Regions from separate parts of the Homo sapiens genome. Here region 2 is linked to region 1. A link means that fine-mapping ties the variant in region 1 to the expression of a gene that starts in the linked region. Tissue or cell type: whole blood. Region 1 holds a variant in brackets; the other region holds the start of a gene. All regions are shown on one strand. Distances are between the middles of the regions.

The links. PIP is the estimated chance that this variant, and not a neighbour inherited with it, causes the effect.
Region 2: it holds the start of C8orf88, and the variant in region 1 is fine-mapped to the expression of C8orf88 in whole blood (TOPMed, PIP above 0.99).

Annotation. Positions count from the first base shown.
Region 1 is chr8:90,893,476-90,901,942 of GRCh38, forward strand. The region is part of intron 5 of NECAB1 (N-terminal EF-hand calcium binding protein 1); the gene reads left to right. All of the region lies in intron 1 of LOC105375634 (a long non-coding RNA gene), which reads right to left. Among named protein-coding and RNA genes, the nearest start is that of C8orf88, 88 kb to the right of the region's middle. The variant C/T (reference allele first, on the strand shown) is at 4,603.
Region 2 is chr8:90,980,683-90,989,149 of GRCh38, forward strand. It overlaps C8orf88 (chromosome 8 open reading frame 88), which reads right to left and starts at 4,556. Exons shown (of 6, transcript NM_001190972.2): 1 at 4,432-4,556. RefSeq lists a silencer at 4,580-4,739.

The DNA of each region.
Region 1 (8,467 bases):
GAAGGGAAGAGCGACTTGGCGACCACAATCCAATTCTGGACAGATGGACAGCCCAGATGGGTGTCCCTTCCAAGGGACTAGGGAGAACGTGAAAAGGGAGCAGATTTCTTGAATACACATCCCCAGACTGTTTCTAAAATTTGGAAGGATTGCTTGTCCAGAGCAACACAATACTCTTTCTGAACTCACCAACTCATGGGGTGAAAACTGTCTATCTCCATCCTGCCTGAATTCCAGCAGTGCAGGAGGCAATCAGGGCCCCCTGCAATGGGCCAGATGGAATTTATGGCTAGCTGGGGAGGTCTGGGGAAAAGAAAGGGATTAGCAGTTTTAATCCTAGTGCTCATACAGTTTTGCATTTTGTAAAGAATGCTATTTTTTTTTTAATTATAGTCAACATCAACTATTCTCATGGTTGGATTTTTTTCTTCAGTTCATTATGTTGAATTTGCCTTTTAAATGATTTTACCTATGACACATCTTTAGTTCATGATCTGCTCTGACATTTTGAGAGCTGTAACCAAGATTATAATGTGGCAGGACATGATAGGCATAGGTGAGTAATATTTTTAGAATTTCTTAGAAACAGAGGCTGATTTTCATGCTGATAACCTAAAAAGCAAGGAGGAGAAATAGACACATATAGCATAAATATCATATAAAGTGGACAAATAACATATTTAATTGTATATTTCTAACAGTTCCAGACACATTTTTTCTCACATAAATATTTTTAATAATGGTTATGCTAAACAGAGACCAATTCTTCCTTAATATATAAGGAAATACATGATATTAGAAGAATAAAACTATTTTCACTTCCTTGTTAATTCTGCCTTTGAGTTCTGCATAGGTCATTTATATACATTAAAATATGGAAAACTACCTCTCACTCCCCAAACTATACAAATCAGAATATGTGGGATAAATGGAGAGATGTCTCCAGAAATAACAATTTCATACTTAGGAAAAACTTGATATGATTCCTAGCTCTGCTACTTGCTAGCATATGCCCAAGTTAATCTTTTTGCCTTCATTTCTTTCATTGTCAGATGTTGGGAGGATAAAATGATATAATGCATGTAGGGGGTCTAGTACTGCAAGTGGCCCATAATAGGCACAATATAGGCATAATAGTCATGGGACTAGTTATCTTTCTACTTCCAAGGTCATTCTCAAGTTTCATACTTTGTTATTGGAAACAATTGCTAAACATGTGGCTTGGTGCTTTATATGGATATGATGGATTCTTTCTTACAACAACAACCAAAATATTTTATTTCTATAAGGTAGAGGGGAGAATTCAACAGAGCAGCTAACTAATAATCTAAGTAAAAATTTGGAATGTTGACCCTTCAGAGAAAATTTTAACCTTAAGTCAGAATTTTACATGCTGATTTTTTTAGATAAACAGATAATAAGTGTAAGTGCTTCATGAGACTTCCCTTCATTTTAAGGATATACATTTCAGCTGATCTATGACAACCAAATCAATAGTTTAATGAAGCACAGGGGCTTGTTTCTGGGAGAACTTCAGTCTGGTGAATGCATAGAGATGCATGTATTTCCCTGAGTGATTGACTAAGCTGCTGCTTATGGGAACAGACACATATGATTGCATAGAGGCACAAATGTCTGTTAAGAAAATTATCAAAAGTAAACAGAAATTAATTCATAAAAATATAAAGGAACAACTAAAAGGGAAGCACAGCACCTAGTCAGCCATCTCCTTGTTAATATGATGAAAACAGATCATCTGCAGTGACAGAACATATACTCCTACAACACTCTTGGAAGCACAAAGGAGGTATGTGAGACCTAGCTACCAAAACTATAAATAACTCCAGGAGCAGAACTCAGTGTCTCTGAATCCCAGAGAAAGAAAACAGAAAAAGTAGTCTCAACACTGAGGAAGCATAGGAATCTTTTGAAAAGCAAAAAAGAAACAAACCAAAGGCATGTATGTACAGAGCAGGTGCCACCTCAAATCCAGTTTAATAGACACAAAAAGCACCTACTGTGTTCAGAGTGTTGCCATGTGCTAGTAATCAAAAGGAATATAATAGGAAACAAAAATTAGCCTTTGCTCTCCAATCAAATAATATAATAACAGCATTTTCTACTGTCTTGATCATTTTGTTGCAGGTTTATTTTTCAGCAGATAGAAAAAGTGATTATGTATTTGATAAAGAGAAACAGATTAGGAAATTCTGTGAAGCCCCCTTCCTTGCCCCATGAAGTTAAATGAAAATTAGTCAGATTTGTGGCCTCTTCAAAGAGAGGAGTGCTGAGTGGAACTGGCCTGTGGCCATAGAGGAAGTATTCCATAGAGAAGTATTCTGTACAATAGATCTGTGGCAGTAGCTGAAAGGGACTGTTTTCCTTCCTTTAATTGTAACTTTCTACTCCCTTTTATGTTTTCTCATGTAAATCAGAGGCACAATTAAAGCTCAACGAGCTGATGTCAGTAGGAGAATAATTTTTTCAAGTTACTCATTTTAGACCAAGTTTTGTGCAAAGTCTGTATTTTATGCAGCCTAAGAGACATTCTGCAGATGAGTCTTAAGAATTTACCTCACACCCGTAATAGGTATACTTATTCTTGTCGGGTGCTGTGTCATACCATGCATCCGTAAGTCGATGCAGAGGTTCATAAAAACGGCACTTACTAAAACCTCCCTTAGCTATCCTCCACCTTATCCAGAGAAGCTTCTTCTTTTGGAAAATCAAGCAAAACAACTAAGCTAAGACATGTTTAAAAAGTTTGAAAAGAAAGCTGTAAGGAAATACAAGAGGAAGAGTTGTTAGGTATGAGTTCTAAATTTCTTTTCAAAGAATTAATATGTCGGCCGGGCGAGGTGGTTCACGCCTGTAATCCCAGCACTTTGGGAGGCCGAGGCAGGCGGATCACAAGGTCAGGAGATCGAGACCATCCTGGCTAACATGGTGAAACCCCGTCTCTACTAAAAATACAAAAAAATTAGCCGGGCGTGGTGGCGGGTGCCTGTAGTCCCAGCTACTCAGGAGGCTGAGGCAGAAGAATGGCGGGAACCCGGGAGGCGGAGCTTGCAGTGAACCGAGATCGTGCCACTGCACTCCAGCCTGGGCGACAGAGCGAGACTCCGTCTCAAAAAAAAACAAAAACAAAAACAAAAACAAAAAAAACAAACAAACTAATACGTCAGTATGTTCAATTCTCTGCCTTCTACTTTTAAACTTAACTTCCTCGTAAAGCAATCTTTTTCGATTATCTACTCCACCCTGACTCATCCTGATTACCTACTCCACCCTGACTCATTCCGATTACCTACTCCACTCTAACTCATTCGGATCACCTGCTCCACCCTAACTCATTCTGATTACCTGCTACCTGCTCTGCCCTGACTCCCGCCAAAGCACTCACCACTTCATTCTCTTTAAATTAGCCAATTAGAATTAGTTTAGCCTGTGAGGTCTAACCCTAGCCAATAGGGGAACGACACAGCAGCAGGGGTGACGTGCGTCAGGGATAAGAACCCCTTGCCCTCCCTTCTCCAAGTGTGCACTCCATTGTTCCTTCTATATAGAAGTACCTTGCTTTGCTGAGAAAAAGAAAATTTAAAAAAAATAATTAAAAAAAAGAATTTAGCAGGTAGAAAGCAGCAATAAAATTTTCTTCTTCAATTACAAGCCAAATTATTGGCAACTCTTCCTCTTCGGTTCCCACAATCCTTAAGAGGATCCTTTGAGGGGCACAGATTTACTATAGGTCCACCACTTATCTGCGATTCCAAAATCCAAAAGCTTCTGAAAATGGAATGTTTTGGTTTTGTTGTTGTTGTTTGGTAAACTTAGCACCAAAGTCCATTTGGTAGCAAAATCTATTTTAATATTAAGAATTTTGCTGCAAAACTACCAATATGGTCATTACAGGGTACTGCTCTAGACCCTGCTGTGGGTATTATATAATTACATGACATATGCTAGGTGTTACCTCTCTAGACCCTGAAAAATTCTGAACTTTGAAATGTATCTGGCTCAATGGTTTCAATAAAAAATTAAGATGGCTATGTCATTATATATGTTATGGAAATGGATGTTCTAATTATTTTTTCAGACTATCAGATTGCATGCTTCAGCAATGCTGAAATGTAATACTATCTTATGTTTAAAAAACAAAGTAAAACAAAAAACTATCAATTCTTTGAAAAGTTTATTGCATTTCAAAGAGCAGTCAAATAATATGCATAGACAAGTGAAAATTGACCCCCAGTGGTCTGGGGAAAATGTAAATGAACTTATTAACGTTTCAAAAATGACACTTTAGGAGACTCAACTGATAATGCTTGTGGCAAGTGTATTGGCGTGAAATAAATGAAGAATGCCTTCATTTGTAGGCTTAATTTACTAAAAGAAATCAGGACTTACCTCCTGTAAGTCACTGTTGGCAGATGATTTAAATGGCTGTGAGAGTAATCATTTGATTTAAAGAATAATTCCTTTTTATGTTTTACTATTGCTACAGAATAAGATTATCATCTCTTTATAAGCTTTTTATCCTCTGTCATTTTCTGTAGTAGCTTTCCTACTTATAGCCTGTATCTTCTTTGGAGGTAATATGAC[C/T]TCAAATTTGTTCCTTGCCTATAGAACATCTCTGTAATCAAATTACAGTTGAGAAAAGCCCATGATTACACACCTCACTATCAGGCTGCATTTTGAGTGATAGTGGAAAAAAGAACTACCAAGCCTGGCTGCTCCCATGAGAATAAGTTTAGATAGGAAGTCAAGGCTCACCCCAATGCTCTCTCTCAAGTCTCACCTCCCCTCTTCCATCACTACCACCACTCAGTGCCCCAAATCCAAATTTAAAATATAGCCTTGTCTTTAGACTTAGAGTAGCACAACTTTTGTATTTAAATCAATATTGTCCCATTTCACTGAGATTAGACATCATATTAACTATTTGGGAATCTGTAAAACCACAGGACCCTAAAAAATTAACACATTTGATATTTGGGGCCACCTAGAACTGACAGTCTCCAGAAGGCCTAAAACTTCAACAGAAGTAGCAGCTCCAAGTGAGTTTGAAGCCTAGTTGCTGCTTGGACTGTGCTTCCTATTCCAATACCCCTGTCTTCTTCTCTTGCCTGGCTCATTGCATCTTCTATAATGCCCAGTATCTCATACCCATCTGTCCTTTTCACACTTAATTCAGTGTTTATTGAGAAAGAGACAGCTACTATTTATTGAGCATAATACATGTTGACCACAGTGCATACATTATCTCAATTAGTCTTTTAGCCCAACTGCACTGAGTCACTCTCACAGTCAGGCACCTGGTACATGGTAGGTACACAATCTACTTTCCTCAGCTCTCTCTTCACCTTCCTAATAGTTCATTTGTCTCATCCCAACTGAGATTCGTTCATGTGGCACAAGTATTTATGGAATACTGTGTCTGCTCAAATCCTCTAGAAACAGAAGCCAAGTGCAAGAGATATGTTGGGAGAAATGCCCTTGGAAGGTAAAGGGGAGAGGGAACAAGAGCAGTGGGAAGATCCTTCAGGCTGCCCTGCAGGTCTGGCACCTGTGAAAAGAGGAGGAAATGGAAGTTGGGCTGGCAGAGAGCCTCTGACAAAGTTTTGGCTATGCCAGTGGGACGCCCGAGGGCAAAGACTGCTCATAAGAGGAGTCCCCCCTGACTTACACCATCCTTAGTCCTTGGCAAGGAATACTGGAGAGGATGTGGCTTCAGCATGAACACTGCTGATCCCCAAGGTGTGGCAGCTGGAGATGGGTAGTTAAGCATACTTAAAACAGTTTCTCTCTGTGGTCCCTTGGTGACTGCCATAGTGTATACCAGGATGTGATTTGAGGAACATGGGCAAAAATTCAAGAATCTGTGAAAATTCAGCTTTAAAGATCCACTTCTCTTACTCTCAAAGGTTTTTCAGTCTTTAAGAGTCTAGTCTTTACAAGTTTTTAAAAGTAAATATCCCTGGGAATAGAAAGATCTAAAGTCCTAGTTACTGAATAACTTAGCAGAGGGTAGTTAAAAGCTCACTAAAAGTAAAGAGATGGGACCCAAAATTTATTTGAGCTGGAGCAAGTTTAGAAACTCTGGAACAGAGAGATGTGCAGAAAGAAATAGTGATGAACCAAAAACCAATTCCCTAGGTTTAGCTTTGCCATAGTTTAAAATATGTTGATGCTCAAATCTTGTCCCTCATGTGTGTGATATTGTACAGTACATTTGATTTTTGTATGTGTTTATTATACCTTTGATTCAGAAAGGTTTACAATGCTTCCTTCTTTGTCATAAGAAACTCATAATTCAGGTGGGTGCTTGTTTCTTATACCAGCATGAAGCTAAACATAATAGTTTGAAACTATTGAAAATATTGAAACAGAATAGTTCTGAAAATATTATTTTCAGAATATTCTGGGACCTTAACTGCACAGTATGTAGGAAGAAAGGAAACATTCCTTCCTCCCTACAGTCTGATACACTAGTGAGAATAATAAGCATTACTAAAACAACAATGAGCACTCAATGGGGAGCCTTGAAGAGTACCTTAGTGTTTAATACAGTGCTGTAAAGGCATGAACCTTTCCCCTGCCTTTCTCTATGAGTAAACTTAGTGTTGCTGCATTTTCCTTATTAGAATTATTTTCATTTCATTAGTAAAATAGGCAGTTGTTCGGGAGTAGAGCAACTGACCTTAGTCTTTATATACCAATATGGGATGATTCAAGGGTCATGTGAAATGTCAAGCTACACACAACAGAACAAGCATAATTCTGTGTACTCTGAATCTTCCCACATTGATCACTTTTGAGGCCAGAAAGTAACAACAGAAGGGTAGAGTAGGCATGACAGAATTGCTTCACCAATGGAACAAAGAGGAAAAATGGTTCTTTTCTTCTTCAACTCTAGATGAACCAGTGAACACAGACTTAGCCAGTTCCAGGATGGAAACTGAGCCCCATGTTCTCATTTCATATATTTGAGAAAACAAACACAAAGGGGTTAGTAGACTTGCCTAAAATCATAGTATGAGTCAATGGCAAAGCCCATAACCCAGTGTAGAATCTTATCCTCTATAAGGGTAGGAAAAGTATTATTCAGAATTGGGTAGAATTAGTTCTTTCCCTTCCAATCACTAAACTGTTAACACAATGCCTCTTGGGAGCATAATTAAGACTATCACTATAACCTTCCAGGTACAGGATTCTTTATCTGTTGCCATGGCAAAGGAGCAAAATCTAAGCCCCTGATTAAAATGAATGCTTTTGTAAGAAATAATCAAGATCCCTGTCAGGGTTTCATCACGCTCTTATACTCTTTGTCATTTTTTTATATGACCCCAAGCCTGGGGCTCAAAGTGCCTACTTGAAATTTCTTTTTGTTGTTTGTATAATAACTGAATTAGTTTTGCTCCAGCAGTTTCTTGATGATTTTTCAGTAAGATAAAGGTACTTTAATCAGTCTAAATACTTGAACATTTTTATTTCAGTGGTAAAAAATAGACTGAGGCAGAGTGAAGTTATAAATTAGAATCTAAAAATTTACCCTTCAACATTAATATTTTTTAGTGCTCTAATATAAAACACAGAAAACCTATCTCAAATATAAAAGATGAATATAAAATTATTAATTAAACAACTGGCAGCCTGGAGATATTCATTCCAGCATAGGCTTTGATAAATCTTTTCCTGAAGGCAGTTAAACCTTTTTGAGAAAAACCTTCTGAGGCTGATATGATTTAAGTCTCTCTGTTAAAAAAAAAAAAAAAATGGTGTTTATAAATTATGCTGCCTTTTTGCTACTCTCAGCTTAAATAGATGATGTTTCCTTTCCTTTTTTAATTGCTGGTTTTCAGCTTTGAAAAGCTTTCCTTCCAGCGGTGCCCTCAAGGGCACAGTTTTATAATCAAGAGCCTTTGACCCTTGTAGCCTCATGAGACTAGAACCCACTGTTTCTCTCCAGGTATGTTTAACACAGACCTGGGAACAATCGAAAAGCTTTTCGTGTTTTGTGCTTTAAACATCTTTTGATAAAATGGTGCAGGAAAATGACACCAGTATTCTAGTCTAGCCGAGGAGAGCTATGTGGTCTTCAGCAAGTCTCCTTAATTTATCTGGCCTTCCTTTTGAAAATGAGCAATTTGTATTCAGTGGTTCCTTCTAGCTCTATGTCTTTAGTGGGTTTGCTGATTGCCTGTGAAATTTGTATAGTACGACCATTTGACCCTGAATTTTGTTTTTCGCTTCAACAGACTATGTATACTCTGTTCTTGTCATTAATTGAATAGTATCGCTCTCTCACACTAACTTGAGCCTTGTAGTTACACACATTTAATGGAGGAATGAGAATGTTCCTTCATTAGCAAACCCTATCTATATTTAGTGTTTGGCTAAAACCTCGTTTGCACTCTCTGTATTTGTGTGTGTGTGTGTGTGTGTGTTAATGTTACATAAGTATTTG
Region 2 (8,467 bases), 87 kb after region 1:
CTCTATATTTCTGTTTTTCTTTTCTTTTGAGGCAGAGTCTCACTCTGTCACCCAGGCTGGACTGCAGTGGCACAATCATAGCTCACTTCAACTTAAAGCTCCTGGGCTCAAGAGATCCTCCTGCCTTAGCCTTCCAAATAGCTGGGATTACAGGCATGAACCACCATGCCCAGCTAATATATTTTTTTTAAAGATGGGGTCTCACTATGTTGCCCCAGCTATGTTCTTTTGGTTTGTTTCCTATTTCTTCGATTGTCTCTTCTAACTTCCTTAGCTGATTCCTCTTCTTCTGTCTTTCTTCCGAATTTGGCTTTGGTCTTCTTAGCTAAAACTCATCTATGCTCACGGCTGCAACCTCCTATCTACATGATAAATATGCCCTAATTTATACTTCCAGAATCTACTTCTCTTTTAAACTCCAGTTCTATTTTTCTAATTGTCTAATAATATTTCAATTTATATATTATCACAGGTACCTCAAATTCAACATATCTAAAATCTAATTAATAACTTTAACTCCTGTATTCCTTTAAAGTCATCACCAACTCCCTTGGACCACACTTGGTAAAACTGCCTTCAATTTGATGGGCTAAATTAGAGCCTCTGATTCCAAAATCAGTCTTTAATTTCTGTTCACGCTACTTCCAAAATATTAATGTTATTTTGTTTCACCATATATTTGGACATTCAAGTGTTTTGTCTATAGTTCCCTTACTATCTCTGCTGCTCTTCTTCCAAACAGCTATTTATCTGTCAAGACCAAGATCAAGCTCTTGCCACTTCCTTGGAAAATATCCCCCTGTCTCAACAGGTAAGGTTAAATAAAATAGTCTACATGAAGTTCTCTAATAATAAAATAATAATAACAATAATAATAATTCCTCCTTCCTTACATTCCTCCTTCACTGGTCCCTACTGTATTTTATCACTTTTTCTAAAATATATCACAGTAAATATATTACATGTCTACTTATTGGACTATCAGTTAGTTGAGGCCACAAAAACCAGACCTTATTTATTTTTGTATTCTAGTATCTGCAACATAGATTTATTAAATAAACTCTATAAACGCTAAGTACCTCGTCATTGCAACTAAAATCTGACACCTGTATGGGACACAAGATTTCCAAATTTTGATGCCCATCAAGACAAAGTCAAAAATAAAACTCCACTTGATTTTGCACCTGCTTATCCAGAAATAATTGTAACCATATGATATTAAGCAAATCATAAGTCTAAGTGCCTATTTCACCAAGTATAAGATAGAGTTAGTAACCCTTTAAGTTCCCAGAAATGCTTTATCCTATTTTTTAAATATCTTTGGACATGTATAATTCAAATGTTAAAATTATAAACTTATAAACAACCTCTCAAAATTAGGAATGATAAGTAAGCACCCAAAAGTTACTATTTGGAGATAACCCAGCAAGTACTTCAAGTTAATACCAACCCAGCTTTGTAATGTGTCTGTTAGCTAGTATTTCAACGTGGCAAAACTAATGCTCTCTGTACTTTTTGTGCAATACAATTGGATATAACAAGATGAAAAAAAAGTTATAAGCACAAATAGAAAAAATACTTCAAATAAAGTTATTAATATTTTCTATGTAGAAGAGTATATTTAAAATAAGGACCAAAAAGCAACCTAATATACATTGCTTTATTTGATGTTTATCCTAGCTATTTTAGTTAAGACCCTAATACTAGTATGTAGTAACTTTCCATCCTGTTCCCCATATGAAACTAGTGAATCAGAATACAATAGGATAGAGTACTTTGGCACACACTTCGTTGTTTTTCATTGCTCAGCTGAAATTTAGTTGTAGGTTGTTAAGTCTTTTCCAATCGCTGAGCAAGGCAAATCCACAGTATTCAAACTAGGGATTTTCAAGAGTTGGGGATTACAGAACTCCATTATATGACTTTGCAACACAAGTAAATAAACAAAAAATCAAAGCTCTTTTGGTGCCACCTACCCTTCAATTTACAGTAGGAAAGATACAGCAATGGCTCCCTGTATATAAATCCACATCAGTTAAGGAAATTAGAAAAGATGGTGTCATTCAGTACTCTGTTTAATATTTTTTTTTAAAGTAAACGATGCCTGCAGGGAAACACTGACATTATAGGGGACAAGTTTGGGATTACAATGCATAGTACATTCCACCATCATGTTATTAATGAAAAAGGTTAAGTATTTATAAAAAGTAATTATTATTGTAAAACTGAGTCACGAGATTATAATTAAGGCAGAACTCCATAAACCAAAACCTAATTCTCAGTTTAGTTAAAAATAATAAAGACTTAACTGCACTACAAAGTCATTATACAAAACAAATTCAGTCTTAAACTCTAATGCCTGCTTCATCCATGGAATGTAGAGATCAAAAAGTTTCCCTTGAAGCTACTGGTGCTACCTAGAGTAGCCATGTATCATATCAACGATTCAAAGCACAGTTACAAAATAAACAGAATTCTGCCTACAACATTGGGTAGCAAGTAGTGGGCCTATCATAAGGTTGTAAAATGTAAATTTAAAAATGTAAATGTATAGTTTTGTGGTATAAATGTTTTTTAAAGGATATTTTGATCCAATGTCTCCAAAAAAACTTTCTATTAATACATACTGAGAAATGGTTGCTGAATAGTTTTTTTCAAGATCACACACACTTAACAAATCATCTTTAAAGACCAAGTTGTATGAATAGAATATTGGTAAATCAGTTAGTTATTTACAGTTGCTATTCTACACCTGGCAATACTAACTATATCTTAGGTTCCTTTTCTTTTTAAAAAATTTACCTAAGTATGAATCTTCAGGCCTTATCAGTCCTGATATTACCAGTAAACCTAGAATTGTCTAAAATACAATGGGATAATAAGCAGATACATTGACCACTTTGGCCAAAATCTTATTAATCTTATTTTTTAATTAAGATGCCTTTTTAAGGTCCTACTACATACTAAATATAATTTCATTTAATTTTGAGCCATATATGAACGGTGGAAGAAAATTATTATTAGTCCCACTTCACAGATAAGAAACCTGAGGCTCAGAAAAATAAGAGACATGCCCAAGTCCACATAGCTACTAAGTGCTAGATATTAGGATTTGACTACAAAGTTCACACCTTTATATCAAAACTTGCCTATTTGTTACATAAAAGAAAGATATCTGACTGTCCATTTATTACATGTGGACACTGCGTGTATAGATTTAAAAATTAATGTGAAAAGTAACATTTATTTATAAGGCCATGCAGAATAAATTGGTATATGCTAATAATATCCATTTCTTCAATTTACCATTTTTCTTAGAATACTAAATAAATTAGGGAGTACTGTGCTTTCCTCACGCTACAGACATGGTATACTGCCATACTAACCATAGATCACAGCATATGAAATATACTATGCACTGTTTTTAGAAGCTGAGTACTATACTTAAACTCCAATATAAATTCTAGTCTTCTTTGGAAAGTACTGATGCTACCGCTGCCGTTGAGAAATAAGATCATATAAAGTGAAATAATGAAATGAAAAGACCATATTTGAATTTACCTTGTGTATAATTCCCATATGATAACCAGATAAAATTTCATCTCAATTTCCAACTTCAAAACATTACAAAGTTAGGATTCCTTGAAACCCAATACTGCTTGTAAGTAAACTGCTCACACTGACAAAATGATAGATGAAGAGAAACATACAGGAAACATCGGGGAGTAAGAAATAAACCACCTATGACTCAAGTGGTGAAAGACATTTCACGTTCCATATATCTGGTTGCACTATTAAGGAAAAATTAAAACGAAAATATCAAAAAACTAGAAGCTTGGAGAGTTCCAACATATCTTCCATTTCATGCCTTCTCTTTATAACTAATTTAATTTTTTTTTTGGTCTATTTGAGGGATTTCTCAAAACAAAACACAATTTAACATTCGGATGGGCTAAAGCTGTCCAGGTAATAGGTGTCTGTGATTACTTTAGTCATGTAACTGTCCTTTCCGTAGCTTTGACTAAAACACCAGCAATGAAAACCTTGTGCCACCGGGTGGAGGGGGCAAATCGTCTTGAAAGCCTCCCACCGCCTGGCACCAGGTGCTGGGGCAGAGCCAAGGGGAGCTGTGTACTTAGCTCCTTTTTTGGCGATGGCTTTGGTCTCGGCCACTTGCCCCTCCGTCGGGCTCCCCTGGCCCCCTACACTTTCTTTCCCCTCATCCGACGCTCTCGCTCCCATCCCACTCCCATTCAGGGTCCACAGGGTACTGAAGGGGCCCTGAGAGATTTCCCGACCCACCTCAGAGCTTCTCTTCCTCGCCTCAACTTTCCCGGGGTCGGGCCTGGGAGACGGCGCCCACCCGCCTCCTCCACACCACGGGGCCCGACTTCCGTCCCCCAGTGTCGCTCATCCTCCCTAGCCACTTACCGACTCAAAATCCACGGGGATTTCGGGGCAGCAGCGTCGCCGCGCTCAGCCCACACGCGGAGGCCGAGCGCCCTGCTGCCCGTCGGGGAACGGCTCCTGCCGCTGGTCCGCTGGCTGACCGCGGTGGCGGCGGCGGGGGGCGAGGGGCGGGGGGCGAGGGGCGGGGGGCGGGGCGGGAGGCGGCTCCGAGGGGCACGAGGCGGGCCCAGGGCGGGCGCGGGGCGTGGCCTCGGGCGCTGAGCCTCGAGAGCAGCCGCACCCCTGCCGGGGTAGAACCGTTAAAAGGGTGGCGCGCGCTTTCCCGGGCGAGCTGGGCGCGTGGGGTTGGAGCGGCGCCACCCAGAGCCGGTCGTCTAGGGTAGGAGGCCGCGAGTGAGGCGCTGACAGGCTAGCCCTCGACGGGGCGCGCCCGCGTGAACGGCCTTGGGGGCCCCAGACCGTGGCCCTGCTTGTGCGAAGACTGGGAGGCGCCAGGCGGGCCGCCTGCTGGGGGCTTGGCGGCGGGTTCCAGGCAGCGTCTGTGAGGGAGGCCGCCTCTGTGAGGGAGGCCGCCGTCGTGCTGACGACTGAGTCCACCCTACTCCTGTCCCCCGTCAGAGCTGCTGGCAGGCGCTGCTTTCCCCTTGGTGCATTTAGTGGGTGTCGGGATTCGGGTTGGCAGGGAGGAAGATGTTTGAGACCTGGTTTACCTCAGACCAGGGATACAGCGTTTCACACAGACTGCCATCCTGAAAGGAACAAAATGAATTAAGGCAACTCCATCCGAATCATTTCTTTTTAATCTTCACCTTCAATCCTTTTGCTAATTTTTCATTATCTTTGAGTGTCCCCAGAGGGGGACTGTCTGCTTGTACTGAGGGACGTGGAGGTGGCAGTCCCTCACGTCCCCAAGCACCAAAAGGACAGTTGAAAATGCACTGGCAAACACTGAACGGTTTTAAGTGGGGCACTATCAGGATTTACCATTTTGGAAGGTATGAAGTTTCACAAGCACTTCCATGTATAGTCAAGTTATTGGAGCTGTCTCCGTTTAGAAATGGCTTCCAGAAACACTCCTACTATCCACTGAGACAACTCGCCTGGCATCAGAGACCTAGGGTCCAGGGTCAGAGATGGGTCATGATAAAAGGGCATCCCTTGGGGTGAGGCACCAGAAGTCTGCACAGTGGAATCAATATATTCCAACCACCAGATGTAGAAAATCTTAAGTGCAGGATGTGGTTCTCATCCATCTAGTCACAACAGAAGTTTTCTTCTTCAGGAATATACTTAACAATGAAGCATGTATAATTTTATATACATCTTACAATAAAATTATTTTGTGCATATCACTGTATGAAGTCAGTAGAAACTATTGTGACAAAAATGTAAATTGGAAGAATTCCAATTCAGATCAGTATTAGTAATTTATTGAGAGGAAGAGAGAAATTAGACTAGACAGACTCCTTGATTTTTTGATAATTGAGGAAGAAAAATGAACCATATAAACATATCGAAACTTTTCAAAATCTTATTGATAATGACATAAAATTTTGGCATCTACAAGGATAATCTAGAATTCATACCTTTACAACAAGAACTTGACAACAAACAGGTTAATGACTTTTAGCAACTTAAAGGTTAGTCACTGCCTGAGAAAACTTGAAGTGCCCTGAAATCACAGAGTTCACCTAAGAACCTTAAGATGAGTTTCCCCAAATTTAGCAATACTAAAAATTGGCATTATTACCAATAACAAATTGTGAAACTGCAATAACTTTTTTAAGCTTTCAATAACAAAAAATACATGTTGACTAACTTTGCTTTGAAAAGACTACCACATTATTCATTATCACCAGGGAAAGTGCATTACAAAATTACTGTCAAATGATGAGGCAATAAAAAAATGAAAACTAAAAATATAGGAAAAACATAGCAATGGTTCAGGTAGTTAATTTAAAATATCATTTTACTGAATTTCTAAAATATTTGTGGTATTTATCATCTTTTTAAAAATCTGTAATTTGTTGTCACTGATTTTCTTATTCTAAGTAAATATTTACTTTGGTCACCGCCCCCCATCCCTGCTTCCTGCCCTGCTCTGGCCACTCAAAGAATTGGAGAATGGATTGAGAAAAAGCAACAGTGGAAATAGATATCCCAGTTAGAAGGATAATAATTTATAATGTGTCTTACTACTTATAAGTAGAGGTTTTATTTAAACTTATATTTTCATATTTTATTTAACTCCACTTTCACAGTACCTAGAACTACACACACACACATACAAACTGGTTACTTGATCTCATGGTATGTGCTGTTTAGTGAGGGTGCAGATATGCAAACAGACAATTTCAACTCAGTAAATTAATTGTTAAATCTGGGTGGTGCCACTGAAAGCCTGGCAACTCAGAAAGCTGAAGAGGTAGCATTATCTCATGTTTACCAAATGATTTCCTTGCCAACCTCCTGCCAATAGTCGCCTTTTATTCATTTATTCCTCAAACATTTACGAAGCATTTTATGAAGGATACACTAACAAACACACAACACAGATGCTCATAATTATTATAGGAATGTGTTAAAACAGTGGTCCCCAACATTGTTAGCACCAGGGGCTGGTTTCGTGGATGACTGGAAGGGCGGGGTATGGTTTTGGGATGAAACTGTTTCACCTCAGATCATCAGGCATTAGATTCTTATAAGGAGCACACGACCTAGATCCCTCGCATGTGCAGTTTACAATAGGGTTCACACTCCTATGGGCCACTGTTGATCTGACAGGCAGCAGAGCTCAGGCAGTAATGCCAGCAATGGGGAGGGGCTGTAAATGCAGATGAAGCTTCAGTCACTCACCTGCCACTCACCTCCTGCTGTGTGGCTTGTTTCCTAACAGGCCAATGACCAGTACCAGTCTGGGGTCTGGGGGAGGGCAGTGGTTAGAAACCCCTGTGTTAAAAGCTATAATAATGACTTAGTTTCATTCAGCTCAGTTCAGCTCAGCAAAGGTTTTGAAGACCTATGTTTATGTGCTAGAAACTGAGGATACAAAGACAAACTGAAATACGACGAGAAAGGCTGATACACACTGAGGTTACAAAGAAAAACTGAAATATGATGAGAAAGGCTGATGCAAAATTAGCAAGAAGAGAACGCTAGCTTAATAATAGTGCCTATATATGAAATAGAAGATAGTATATGTAGTAGAAATGTTTACGTGGAATAAAAGAAGGACTACATGGAAAGGCATACTTCTGTTGAACGGTAGGAGGATGGAGAAGAGACATCACGAAAGGGTTCACAGGGGAGGTAATGCCTGAGCAGGATTTTTAAGGATAAAACATTTACCCACTTAGAAAAGGGTATTCCTTGCAGGTGAAAGAACAAGCCCAGAGATATACAGGAATAGAGCAGCAGCCAATAAAATAAAACATCAGTAATTCAGTACTGCAGAAACACAAAATACAAGAGACTGCCTGGTAGTGGCTTGATATTAGGCTAATAAAAGATGAAGTGTCTTTTATCTCCTTTATAAGGATATGGAGAGACACTGAAGGATTTTAGTTTGGGTTTAATAGTATTCTATGACCATTTGGGAAAAAATTACTTAAATGACAACATGAAAAATGGATTGGGAAGCAGAGTAGGCATCAGGCAAGACAAGAAGAGAGGCAGAGGAATCGGTTCAGAGGTTTACAGTAATCCAGGCAATGTTTATTGAGAGCCATAAGTAAAGGTAGATAGTGACCATAAGGAAAGAAAAGTACACATAGCTGAGAGAATAAGGAAAACTGCTAACAGTGTAGAGTGTGAGAGTGGAAAGTGGAAAATAGTGATGCCAGTTATTGACTTGCGCACCCAGAGCGATACAGGAAAAAAATAAAAAGATACTGTGATTTGCCTGAGGAGGCACAAGAGAATGGGATCTAGATTGTAGGTGAAGGGAAGGGACAAAAGCAAGAATAGGTGAAGTAGAGATTATCCAGTATAAGTGGAAGGGGTCTACTGTGGAAAGCAGTAGGACTTTCAAATTTTGAGATAGCATTTCTGGGGAATG